3 linked regions of the Homo sapiens genome follow. The protein of the gene in region 1 interacts with the protein of each later gene in a pairwise test. Each region holds a gene or a part of one and is shown in the gene's direction. Other genes may lie near its edges. The genes, in order: NSG1, TMEM45B and SLC23A2.

Region 1 (3,651 bases):
GAAGACCATGGGTGATTATGCTCATCCCAATAGACTGGCTGCTGGCAGCAGAAGCCCTGCCTCATCTCCCTGCCTCTACCTCCTGTGGCTGTCTGAGAAGGCGATGTATGCAGTAGGTGCTCAGTACATGACTATACTGGACTAAGTCTGCTGGGTGTGTTCCTCTGCTTAGTTTTCTTTTCCTCCTTTATGATTCACAACTGCCCTGAAGGGGTGGCATCGGCCCCTTTACACGTAAGGCTGTTGAGTCCCAGGTGGTCCCAGGGTGGCTGGGGTGCTCCCTCTGTGACTCTCTAGCTTCAAAGCCAAGGCCTTCCCAACATACCTTGCACCACATCCCTCCCCACTCCCATGGGACGCCTGCTGCTTCCCAGACCCCATCCCTTCCATCTCCTCCCAGGGCAGGTGCAGATCACACCTCTGCCAGGAAGCCTCCTGGGTCACTCTCATTTGCAACAGACCTCACCGCCCTGTTTCCAGTGCCTTTTGTAGCCAGGCTGCAATGGCATCTAACAGTGACGGAGTGATCCATGAGCTAGACTCTGCTTCACACTCCTAATGCTCATATTGTCTCATTTAATCTTCATAAACACCTCAGGAGGTAGGCGCCCTTATAGCTCCATTTTACATAGAGGGGAAACTGAGGCAGAGAGCCTTGGCAGCCTGCTCTTGGCTGTGGCACCAGAGGTCCTTGGTTTCTTGGAGAAGTGGGTTTGTGTGGGAGCACTCACCCCAGGCGCCATCGCTGTTGAGCCATTCCACTTCTTCAAATCCTTTTCCTTTGTTGATTCAAAACCCTTGCTCTGCTGCCTTGAGCCACACAGAATGTGCGGCGCCCTCCTTCCCCATCCCCAAGGCCTTCAGAGACATGGCAGGCACAGGTACCCCGGAAGCCTCCCCAGTGTACAGCTTCTTTTTCTCTTGTGTCTTTCTGAGTCCTGGTTTCCACGCTCCCTTCCCCCAGGTGCTCTCTTTTGAGGGTCTGGGTTGGGCTGTCTTCTCTTTGGGTGTGAAACCTGTGACTGGGTGTCCTGGCAAGGTCCATTGGTGTGGCCCTTCCAAGCATAGGCCCCCTCGACCTGAACTGGTGACCCGAGGAGGGGAACAAGGCCATGGAGACCCCCTGAGCCAAGAATGTCAGCCAAGAATGAATGCTTAGGGACTCTTTGTGCAGACGGAACTTACTCATCAGCCGCTCTATGCCAGCCATGGTAAGAGCTCCTTGATATCATCTCTCTGGCGCTTCTTGCACACACAGTAACAGCTTGATAAGTAAATGGATGACTAATTGTGCTGCTGGCCTCCCATGAATGGGGTACTTGGCGAGATTTCCTGGGTCTGCCCGTGGGTCCTTGCTTGTTGAGTAAGTTCAGCTGGCAGCTCATTGGATTGAAGCCTCTCTCGGGGCCATGCTTACGCGTAAGCCTCTAACAGGTGATGCCTGTCAGCTCTCACCAAGTCAGACAGGTGACCTGCTCAAGACCACACAGTCAGTGAGTGGCAGAGGCAGAGTAGGAGCTGGGCAGCCGGCTCTAGAAGCCTGTTGCTGTGGCATACTTCAGCCCACTAGCTTGCCCAGGAAGCCTGCAGGCTGGACTTTCGCAGCTGAACAACTTGCATTCTAAGGGCATCTCTTCTCTGTGCCTGCTCCGAGCCCCTTCTCAACTGGGAAGGAGATTTACCTAGCTCCCTGCCCACTTGCTGTGGGGTGGATGTGAGAGGCAGCCTCCAAAGTGCTGCTTCCCCAGGTGTTTCTGGAGCCACCTGAGTCAGCATCACCTGAAGTTTGATTTTAACTTGGACCCTGAACCGCAGGGAGATGCGTTTTGACAAATGCTTTCCAGGTGATCCTAATGTGTCCTGAGTTTTCGAGCCTTTCCGATGGGGGTGCATTCCAGCACAGAAGCTGGGAAGGATGAGGAGGGCTGGTGCTTTTTGGGAATGCTAAGGGTGCCCACCTTTCTGGAATGTTCTCCCAGCTTTTTATTACCCAGTTAGATTTCTGGCATCCCTGAACGCGTGCACACAATGAGGCGTGTGTGAAGCTGCAGCTGGTTGAGGGCTGGGCGGGTCTCTCTTTCTGAAACGGGAGCATATGGGGAGCAGGCTATGCTGGAGACACGGGCATGATGGAGGGTCCGCAATAGAGATTCACCCTCCCTGGCTTGTGTACCCCCCTGCCAGGGCCCAGTCGAAGCTGTGGTTGGGACAGAGCATCTTCCTCGTCCCACTAGTGACTGGACAGCTTCTGTGCAGCTCCCTGGCCCAGCCATCATCTTAGCTCTTTCATCTCCATGCATGAATTGCAGGAATGGAATCTCGCCTTTCCGATCTTGAAGTGACAGGTAAATCGTTTGTCCCCTCCTCTCTCCAATTTGTGTAGCTCAGAAGCACCTCATCTTTATAGGCGTTTGGATGGCATCCTTGAAACGGAGTGTCTTTTTGCATGCAGCTTTCTGATTGTCACTTGGGGATTAATCTCTTGGCTGTGAGGTTACTAGGCTGGTTGCTAGGTAACTGCTGACTGGGAGAAGGTTCTGAGAGACTCCGCCACACGGGATGGCAGGAGGACTCCCCCAGCGGCGGCCAGCTGCTTGGGCTTCCAAAGAGGTTCTTGTCAAGGAAAGCAGTCGCTTAATTAACTGGAGGCATATTTACAGTGAGAATAAACACTGGCTGAGATGTTTCTCAACCAAACCTAAACATTTTTGAAATTGCACTTCCCCACTGATGCCTGCAGAGTGGCGGGTCGGGGCTGCTGGGGCCGCTGCTTGCAGTTCTCCTTCCGGTCTGGAGACTGTCATTAGGGGCCGTCATCAGACAGGTGACAGGAAGGCTCCCTCAGGGCCCGCTCCAGCCCTTCGTGCTTCGTGATTCCGGTGATGACCGGTTGCTGACGCTGGAGAGGTCTCCACACCCTGTTTGCCTGTGATGTGAGGTCAGGTTTGGGTGGTCCAGCCTTGACCCTCACCGGGTACCATGTCACCCTGGGGCCTTGAGAGATCTGAAGGTCGGCTTTGCACGGGAACACCTTTCACCGCCAGCACAGGGCTGGGGAGTGACTTGGCAGGAGAGCCCTCGTTAGTCTGCGTGGTCCCCCTGGTTGGCAGTCCAGACTCTGGTGGGGACGTCCCTCTGCATCCTGTCGCAGAGGACTCTGTGGGTGGTTTGTGTCTTTTCTTCACATCCCTAATGACCTTGAGCTTCCTGCGTGCCCATCTGTTTCCACATTCTCCAGTAAGCCCCTGGTGTGTTCCCTAATGACCTTGAGCTTCCTGCGTGCGCATCTGTTTCCACATTCTCCAGTAAGCCCCTGGTGTGTTTCAAGATGCATTTCTTAAATATTTATGAAGAGTGATGCCGTTTCCTTGGCATTCAGCAGTGGGGGTGGGGGTTCTTCCCGTGGGGGTGGTATTGGAGACCCTGAAGGTGTGTGTGGACGCCCCCTCACCTTTAGCTATGCGAGCATCTTGTAGGATCCTGGGGCTGTGGTTGCAGAGCCCACCTTCCCCAGGCTAGCTGTAGTGTGGGGGCTTCGGCTGAATCAGATACCACGTGGGTTCAGTCATCTGTGTGTGTGTGTGTGTGTGTATGTATTCACTTTTGTGTGGGTTACCTAAAATATTTAGTGCTGTAAACGCTTGAAGATGT
Region 2 (3,651 bases), on another chromosome or scaffold:
CAAAAATATCTTAGAGCTGAGTATAACCTTAAAGATTGTCAAGTCCAATCTTGTGGTTTTTCAAGGAAGAAAACCGGATTTAAGAAAAATAAAGCAAGTACCTCATGTTGCTTCCCCAAATCTACTTCATTGGAGAATTACAGCTAAAAACAATGTTCAGATTTTTGCTCCTTCTGTCATGTGGTCCCTTGAGAATTTGCCAAATGTATAAATCCAGTGACTTATTTTGATGTACTCTTTTGGTTTGAGGTCTGTGACAGCAAACATAACCTCCTTGAATCCCAGCCTCAAATGCCTATGGACCTTCTGTTCTAACTGTTATTATAACTGTAGCCGTTATTATAGTGGCTAAAGTTCTAACTTCTGTTCTAACTGTGCTCCTGGTTCCATGACAAAGAGAGCTTTACTTGTCTTATTCCTAGCACAGTGCCCATAGCAGGCATACATAAAATGTGGTATGTCAGATAAACATCTGAAAAAGTGTGAGATGTCATTAGACGTTCATTCAGCTACAAGAACAGAAAACCCTACTACAGCGGCTTAAACAAGTAAGGAGTTTGTTTTTCTCAGAGAACGAGAAGTCTGGAGGTGAGAAGGCTGGGGCTGGGAAAGGGGTTCCGATATGAACGTCATCTGAGACAGGCTCCTTGTGTCTTCCCGCACCACCCTCCTTAGCATGGAGCTTTCATACTCACTTCCGCAAGTTGCAGCAGAAAGACGGGCAGAGGCATGCTCCAGAAGAGTCTTGTCTTGTCTTTTCTTTTCTTTTCTTTTCTCTCTTCTTTTCTTTTCTCTCTCTCTCTCTCTGTCTCATCTCTTTCTTTCTTTTGACTCAGAGTCTCTCTCAGTGGCACAATCTCGGCTCACTGCAACCTCCGCTTCCTGGGTTCAAGTGATTCTCCTGCCTCAGCCTCCAAGTAGCTGGGATTACAGACGTGCACCACCACGCCCAGCTAATTTTTGTATTTTTAGTAGAGACGGGGTTTCACCATGTTGGTCAGGCTGGTCTTGAACTCCTGACCCTGTGATCTGCCCCCCTCGGCCTCCCAAAGTGCTGGGATTACAGATGTGAGCCACCACGCCTGGCCTGTCCTTCTTTATAATAAATAATAATAATAACAGCTTTTCTGGTAGCCCACCCCAAAAGACTTCTTACATGTCATTGGCCAGAACCATATCACATACACACTGTTAACGGTGACGGAACCAGAGAGAATCTAGTGTTTGAGACAGACACGTTGCCAATACATCAAAATAAGAATTTTGGGCCAGACACAGTGGCTCACGCCTGTAATTCCAGCATTTTGGGAGGTCAAGGCGGGTGGATCACCTGAGGTCAGGAGTTCAAGACCAGCCTGGCCAACATGGTGAAACCCCATCTCTACTAAAAACACAAAAAATCAGCCGGGCGTGCTAGCAGGCGCCTATAGTCCCAGCTACTCAGGAGGCTGAGGCAGGAGAATCGCTTGAACCCAGGAGGCAGAGGTTGCAGTGAGCCGAGATCATGCCACTTGCACTCCAGCCTGGACAACAAGAGCGAAACTCCATCTCAAAAAAATAATAATAACAACAAAATAGGAATTTTGTTAATAAGGCGGGGGGAGAATGAACATTGGGTAGGCAGCTAGCAGCATCTGCCATAGTGTGTTTTATGAGTCATAGATCCTGTCTCTAAATAGGTTGTTATTTGTTTTGGTTTTTTGTTTGTTTTACTAAAAAGCAATGGGTAATGCAGTGGGTCCAGGGGAACTTTTTTAAATGGTAGAGTGCAAGGACCACTCTGAGAACTGCTGATTATGTAGGTCTGGGCTGGGTCTATAATTCTCCATTATGGACGGGCACGCCAGGTCATCTGAGGGCAGGTGGTTGCGGGAATACATTTTGAGAAACACCGAATGTCAGGTAGTTTAGCAAAAGCGACTTTATTTTATTTCTGTTAGCTTTTTGCCTCACTCCTCTTGAGGGTATACTTTATTTTTTAATTATCTGCTTTGGTCAACATAAATCAATGTATAGTCTTAGAAGTCGTTCATTGTAGAAGGTTTTCATTGAGTTTATACTGAGTATAGAACCCTAGCGGCAATTACTTTCAATGCTTTGGGTTGTGTTTTTCTGATATTACCATATTCTAAATAGCATGCAGATACGGGCCATTTCTTCTTCTCTTTTCCAGTTCTGGATGACATCTATTGACATCCTACCAAGAAGGATGAGGGTTTCGCTCCTTTACACCCCCACCCTCCCTCTCACCTTCACATCCCTTTCTTTTAAGTTCCCAGTACGGTTATATCCTAAATTTTTGATATGTCAATGTTTGGTGTATATATTATTCCCAACTAAGGCACATGATACACCATGATCTTTACATTTCCCTTCTTGACCAGTCTTTCCCCCAACCCCCTGGAATGGGGTGTAGGAGTTGCTACATTTTCTTTAGTTGTTTGAGAACTCATCACCAAGAAGTCATTTCCTGGAGCCAAGGAAACTCATGGGGGCCCTCTGAGTGCTGCTAATTGCATGGAGCTGTTGAGTGGGGAGGAAACGCCAGGCCGCCATCAAGAAGCATTTGGGGTAAATTTTCCAAGCACATCTGAAAAGACAGAGTCTAGAACCTCCACGGTCCCTGTCTGTTGTGATTTATTTTCTCATTCTAAATACACACACACTTTTTTTTTCTGTCTAGGCCATCTCTTGTGGAATACATATGTACTTTCATACCCAATTATGTACAGTTTTTGTAATTTTACGCCTTTTTCTTAAAGAAGGCTCCCAAAAGTGTATAAGATTCAGGCCCCATAAGATGCGGTTGCTTTTTGAGCTTGTGCCCATTTGAGATGTCACTTTTCTTCCTTCACACTTGCTTGCTGGTTTGGCTGGGTATGGGATATTAATCAGAAATCATTTCCCGTACGAATTTTGAAAACATTGCTCTATTTTATTCTACTTTCTTACGGTGCTGTTGAGAGGCTGATGCCATTCTAATTCCTGATCCCTTGTATTTTGTTCTAATCTCTGGGCATTTGTAGGGTTTTCTTTATTGTTCATATTCTGATATTTCATGATGTTGTTATTTAATGTTGGGGTGGGTTTTTTGGCGGGGTGGGGGGAATACAGGGAGGTATCCGTCACTGTCCTAAGTATTTTCTAGGCCTTTTCAATCCAAAAAGTACATTCTTCAGTTCTGAGTGGTTTTCTTCTGTTATATAATTTCCTCGTTCTTTCTTTCTGAAACTTAAATTACTTAGACTGAATCTGAAAATGGGATCTCTTGGATCTGTCTTGTAATTTTATCTTTTTTATTTTAAAAAATATCCCATGTTTTTTTAGTTCTAATAAATCTTCCAACAATGCTATTAAATGTTTACATTCTACCATTATATTTTTAATTCTCAGGAGCTTTTATTGGCGAGAGGTGTGGTCTTCTGAATGGTTTTTACAGTATCCTGTTCTCATTTCATGAACGCAGCATCTTCTCTTCTTTCTCCAAGCATATTAACTCAGTACTTTTTCTACATTTTAGAAGTTTTCTTCAGCTACCTACAATGTCTGTGTCTATTTTTAAAGTGACGTTTAATGTTGCTTTTGGCCTGCCTTTCACGTTGGAAGCTTTATACATGTTTGGGGATGGTGTGCGTCATCTGTGAGCATGGC
Region 3 (3,651 bases), on another chromosome or scaffold:
GCTTTCCTTTGTTCAAGTGAATATATACATACCCCCAGCTCCATTCAATTAAATTTGAATAAGCTTTTTCATTTTGGACCATCATTTCATCTCAGAGTTCTTGGCTTTGTGACTCTGAGGGTCTTCTCCACCCTGCTTCAGACCGAAAGCACTGCTGTGTCCTCAGTCTTCATGAAGGAAACACAATTGCTTTCTTTCTTTCTTTTTTCTTTTTTTTTTTGAGACAGAGTTTTGCTCTTGTTGCCCAGGCTAGAGTGCAATGGTGCGATCTTGGCTCACTGCAACCTCCACCTCCTAGGTTCAAGCGATTCTCCTGCCTCAGCCTCCTGAGTAGTTGGGATTACGGTCACTGCAACTGCGCCTGGCTAATTTTTGTATTTTCATATTTTTTTTGGGGACGGAATCTTGCTCTGTCGCCCAGGCTGGAGTGCAGTGGTGCGATATCGGCTCACTGAAACCTCCGCCTCATGGGTTCAAGCGATTCTTCTGCCTCGGCCTCCTGAGTAGCTACGCCTGGCTAATTTTCATATTTTTAGTAGAGACGGGGTTTCACCGTATTGTTCAGGCTGGTCTCGAACTCCTGACCTCGTGATCCACCTGCCTCAGCCTCCCAAAGTGCTGAGATTACAGGTGTGAGCCGCCGCACCTGGCCAACACAATTTCTTATACATTCTACTTTAGATGGGATTTCAGCCTCAAATTCGGTTTGGCTTTATTGACTCCTCTCCAGGGCTGGCTAAAATCATTTCCTGTCTCCAAAGGCAGATCACCTAGCTGGGGGCTAACTACAACACCTTCCTTGTCAAACATGGATCTCATTCTGAAGATCTAGGGTGGACCCCGAAAATGTGCATTTCTCACAAGTTCTCAGGTGACAGGGATGTTGCTGGTGGAGGCATCACCAGCATCTGGTTTTGTAAATAAGGTTTAATTGCAACACAGCCAAGCTCACTCAAGAGACCATGTAACTCTGGCCCTTTACAGAAAAAGTTTGGTGATCCTGCTTCACAGTAAGGTATATGTGGTCAGTGCTGAGAATTTTCTATTGAATTCATGTATCTATATTTTTTGAGACAGGGTCTGTCACCCAGGCTGGAGTGCAGTGGTGAGATCTCTGCTCACTTGCAGCTTCTGCCTCCCGGGCTCAAGAGATCCTCCCACTTCAGCCTCTTGAGTAGCTGGGACTACAGGCATGTACCACTACACCCAACTAATTGTTGTATTTTTTGTAGAGACAGGGTTTCACTATGTTTTTAGAGATGGGGGTCTCCTGTGTTGGTCAGGATGGTCTCGAACTCTTGAGCTCAAGCCTCCTAAAGTTCTGGGATTACAGCCGTGAGCCACTGTTCCCAGCCCAAGTTCATATATTTCTTATCAAGAGCTTTTTTGATATTTATATTTATAGACATTGCTTCACAAATTTTTCCACAGATGCATGATATGGGGGAATGTATGCATATTTAAAAGTGTTTGGAATATAACAAGCATGACACTTCTTTTAAGTCTCTTCTGTTTTATCTAAAATTAATGTGAATTTCTCATTCTGTTTCAGAAACATCAGTGCTTGTTTTAATATAAAACATTTTTCTTCCATGTTCTTTGAGTAAAGTTGATGCTACTAGATACATTGTTTTTGATCTTGACCTGCTTGAGAAACACGTACAGGTTGAATATACCTTCTCCGAAGTGCTTATGACTAGAAAGTGTTTTGGATTTTGGGTTTCTTTTTTTCTTTTTTTTTTTTCGGATTTTGGCATATTTGCACTATACTTACCAGTTGAGCATTCCTAATTTTTTAATCTGAAATTCAGAATGCTTCAGTGAGCGTTTCCTTTTTTTTTTTTTTTGAGACGGAGTCTTGCTTTGTCGCCCAGGCTGGGGTGCAGTGGCGCGCCCAGGCTGGAGTGCAGTGGCACGATCTCAGCTCACTGCAAGCTCCACCTCCCAGGTTCATGCCATTCTCTTGCCTCAGCCTCCCTAGGAGCTGGGACTGCAGGCGCCCGCTACCATGCCTGGCTAATTTTTTGTGTGTGTGTTTTTAGTAGAGACGGGGTTTCACTGTGTTGGCCAGGATGGGCTCGATCTCCTGACCTCGTGATCCACCTGCCTCGGCCTCCCAAAGTGCTGGGATTACAGGCATGAGCCACTGCGCCAGGCTGAGCATTTTCTTTTGAGTGTCTTGTTGGCACTCAGAAAGTACTGAATTTTGGAGCCTTTCAAATTTTGGATCCTTTCAAATTTTGGATTTTTGAATTAGGAATACTCAACCTGTGTTAAGATTTGCATTTTTTTGTCCTACTTTGCAAATATTTTTTTCTATGCCTTGACTTAAATTCAAGTCTGTTGGCCAAGCGCGGTGGCTCATGCCTGTAATCTCAGCACTTTGGGAGGCCGAGGTGGGCAGATCACCTGAGGTCAGGAGTTCCAGACCAGCCTGACCAACATGGAGAAACCCCGTCTCTACTAAAAATACAAAATTAGCCCGGCATGGTAGTACATGCCTGTAATCCCAGCTACTCGGGAGGCTGAGGGAGGAGAATCACTCGAACCCGGGAGGTGGAGGTTGCAGTGAGCCAAGATCGCCTCATTACACTCTAACCTGGGCAACAAGAGCGAAAAACTCCGTCTCCAAAAAAAAAAAAAAAAAAAAACTGTCAATCTTTTTTTATTTCCCATGGCTTTGTTATCCCTAAATTTTATAGGTATTCACTCATGTTTTCTCTTAGTTCTTTAAAAAAAAATTGGCTATAATTAGTCTGATATTTGTTTTGGAGTATGGTATGAAGTAAGGATTATTTGTCCCCTCTAGTTTATATTTTTTGGGTACTATTAATTCATCCTTATTAACTTAAAAAATAACACCTTAATCATATGCTGAATCCTTGGATCTGTTGTTTTAGTCAGTTTATCTGTTCTTTTGCCATGACCTTACTATTTTAGACATTAAAATCACTTTATAGTAGGCTTTATTATCTGGTAGTGCCTATGCTCAGTTTTTACTCCAGTGTTTTTCAATTTAGGGTTTCAAAATACTCCCTCCATCTTGAGATGGAGTCTCACTCTGTCCCCCAGGCTTGAGTGTAATGGCGCGATCTCGGCTCACTGCAACCTCTGCCTCCCAGGTTCAAGTGATTCTCCTGCCTCAGCCTCCCGAGTAGCTGGGATTACAGGCATGTGCCACCACGCCTGGCTAATTTTTGTATTCTTAGTAGAGACAGAGTTTCACCATGTTGGCCAGGCTGTCAAAATACTGTTAATGGGAAATTTCATTAAATGCATAAGTTAATTTGGGGAGACTTGTCATCTTTATAATATTGACTTGTTCTGTGTATGAACAGAAAAAGTCAGTGTCTCTAGATTTTTCCTAATATGTGGTCTATAGATTACTTTTGTGTGTGTGTGTGTGTGTGTGTGTGTGTGTGTGTGTGTGTGTGAAACGGAGTCTCTCTCTGTCACCCAGGCTGGAGTGCAGTGGTGTGATCTCAGCTCACTGCAACCTCCGCCTCCTGGATTCAAGCAATTCTCCTGCCTCGGCCTCCTGAGTAGCTGGGATTACAGGTGTGCACCACTACACCCAGCTAATTTTTGTATTTTTAGTAGAGATGGGGTTTCACCGTATTGGTCAGGCTGGTCTTGAACTGCTGACCTTGT

The links.
Region 2: the proteins of NSG1 (region 1) and TMEM45B interact in binary tests that used the Homo sapiens proteins (3 or more experiments, as listed by UniProt).
Region 3: the proteins of NSG1 (region 1) and SLC23A2 interact in a two-hybrid assay, tested with the Homo sapiens proteins (one large-scale study listed by BioGRID).

What each region holds. Positions count from the first base shown.
Region 1 is NC_000004.12:4,393,470-4,397,120, forward strand, and holds part of NSG1 (neuronal vesicle trafficking-associated protein 1), read left to right. Parts: intron 1-3,651.
Region 2 is NC_000011.10:129,818,766-129,822,416, forward strand, and holds part of TMEM45B (transmembrane protein 45B), read left to right. Parts: intron 1-3,651.
Region 3 is NC_000020.11:4,991,504-4,995,154, reverse strand, and holds part of SLC23A2 (solute carrier family 23 member 2), read left to right. Parts: intron 1-3,651. UniProt on the Homo sapiens protein: Sodium/ascorbate cotransporter. Mediates electrogenic uptake of vitamin C, with a stoichiometry of 2 Na(+) for each ascorbate.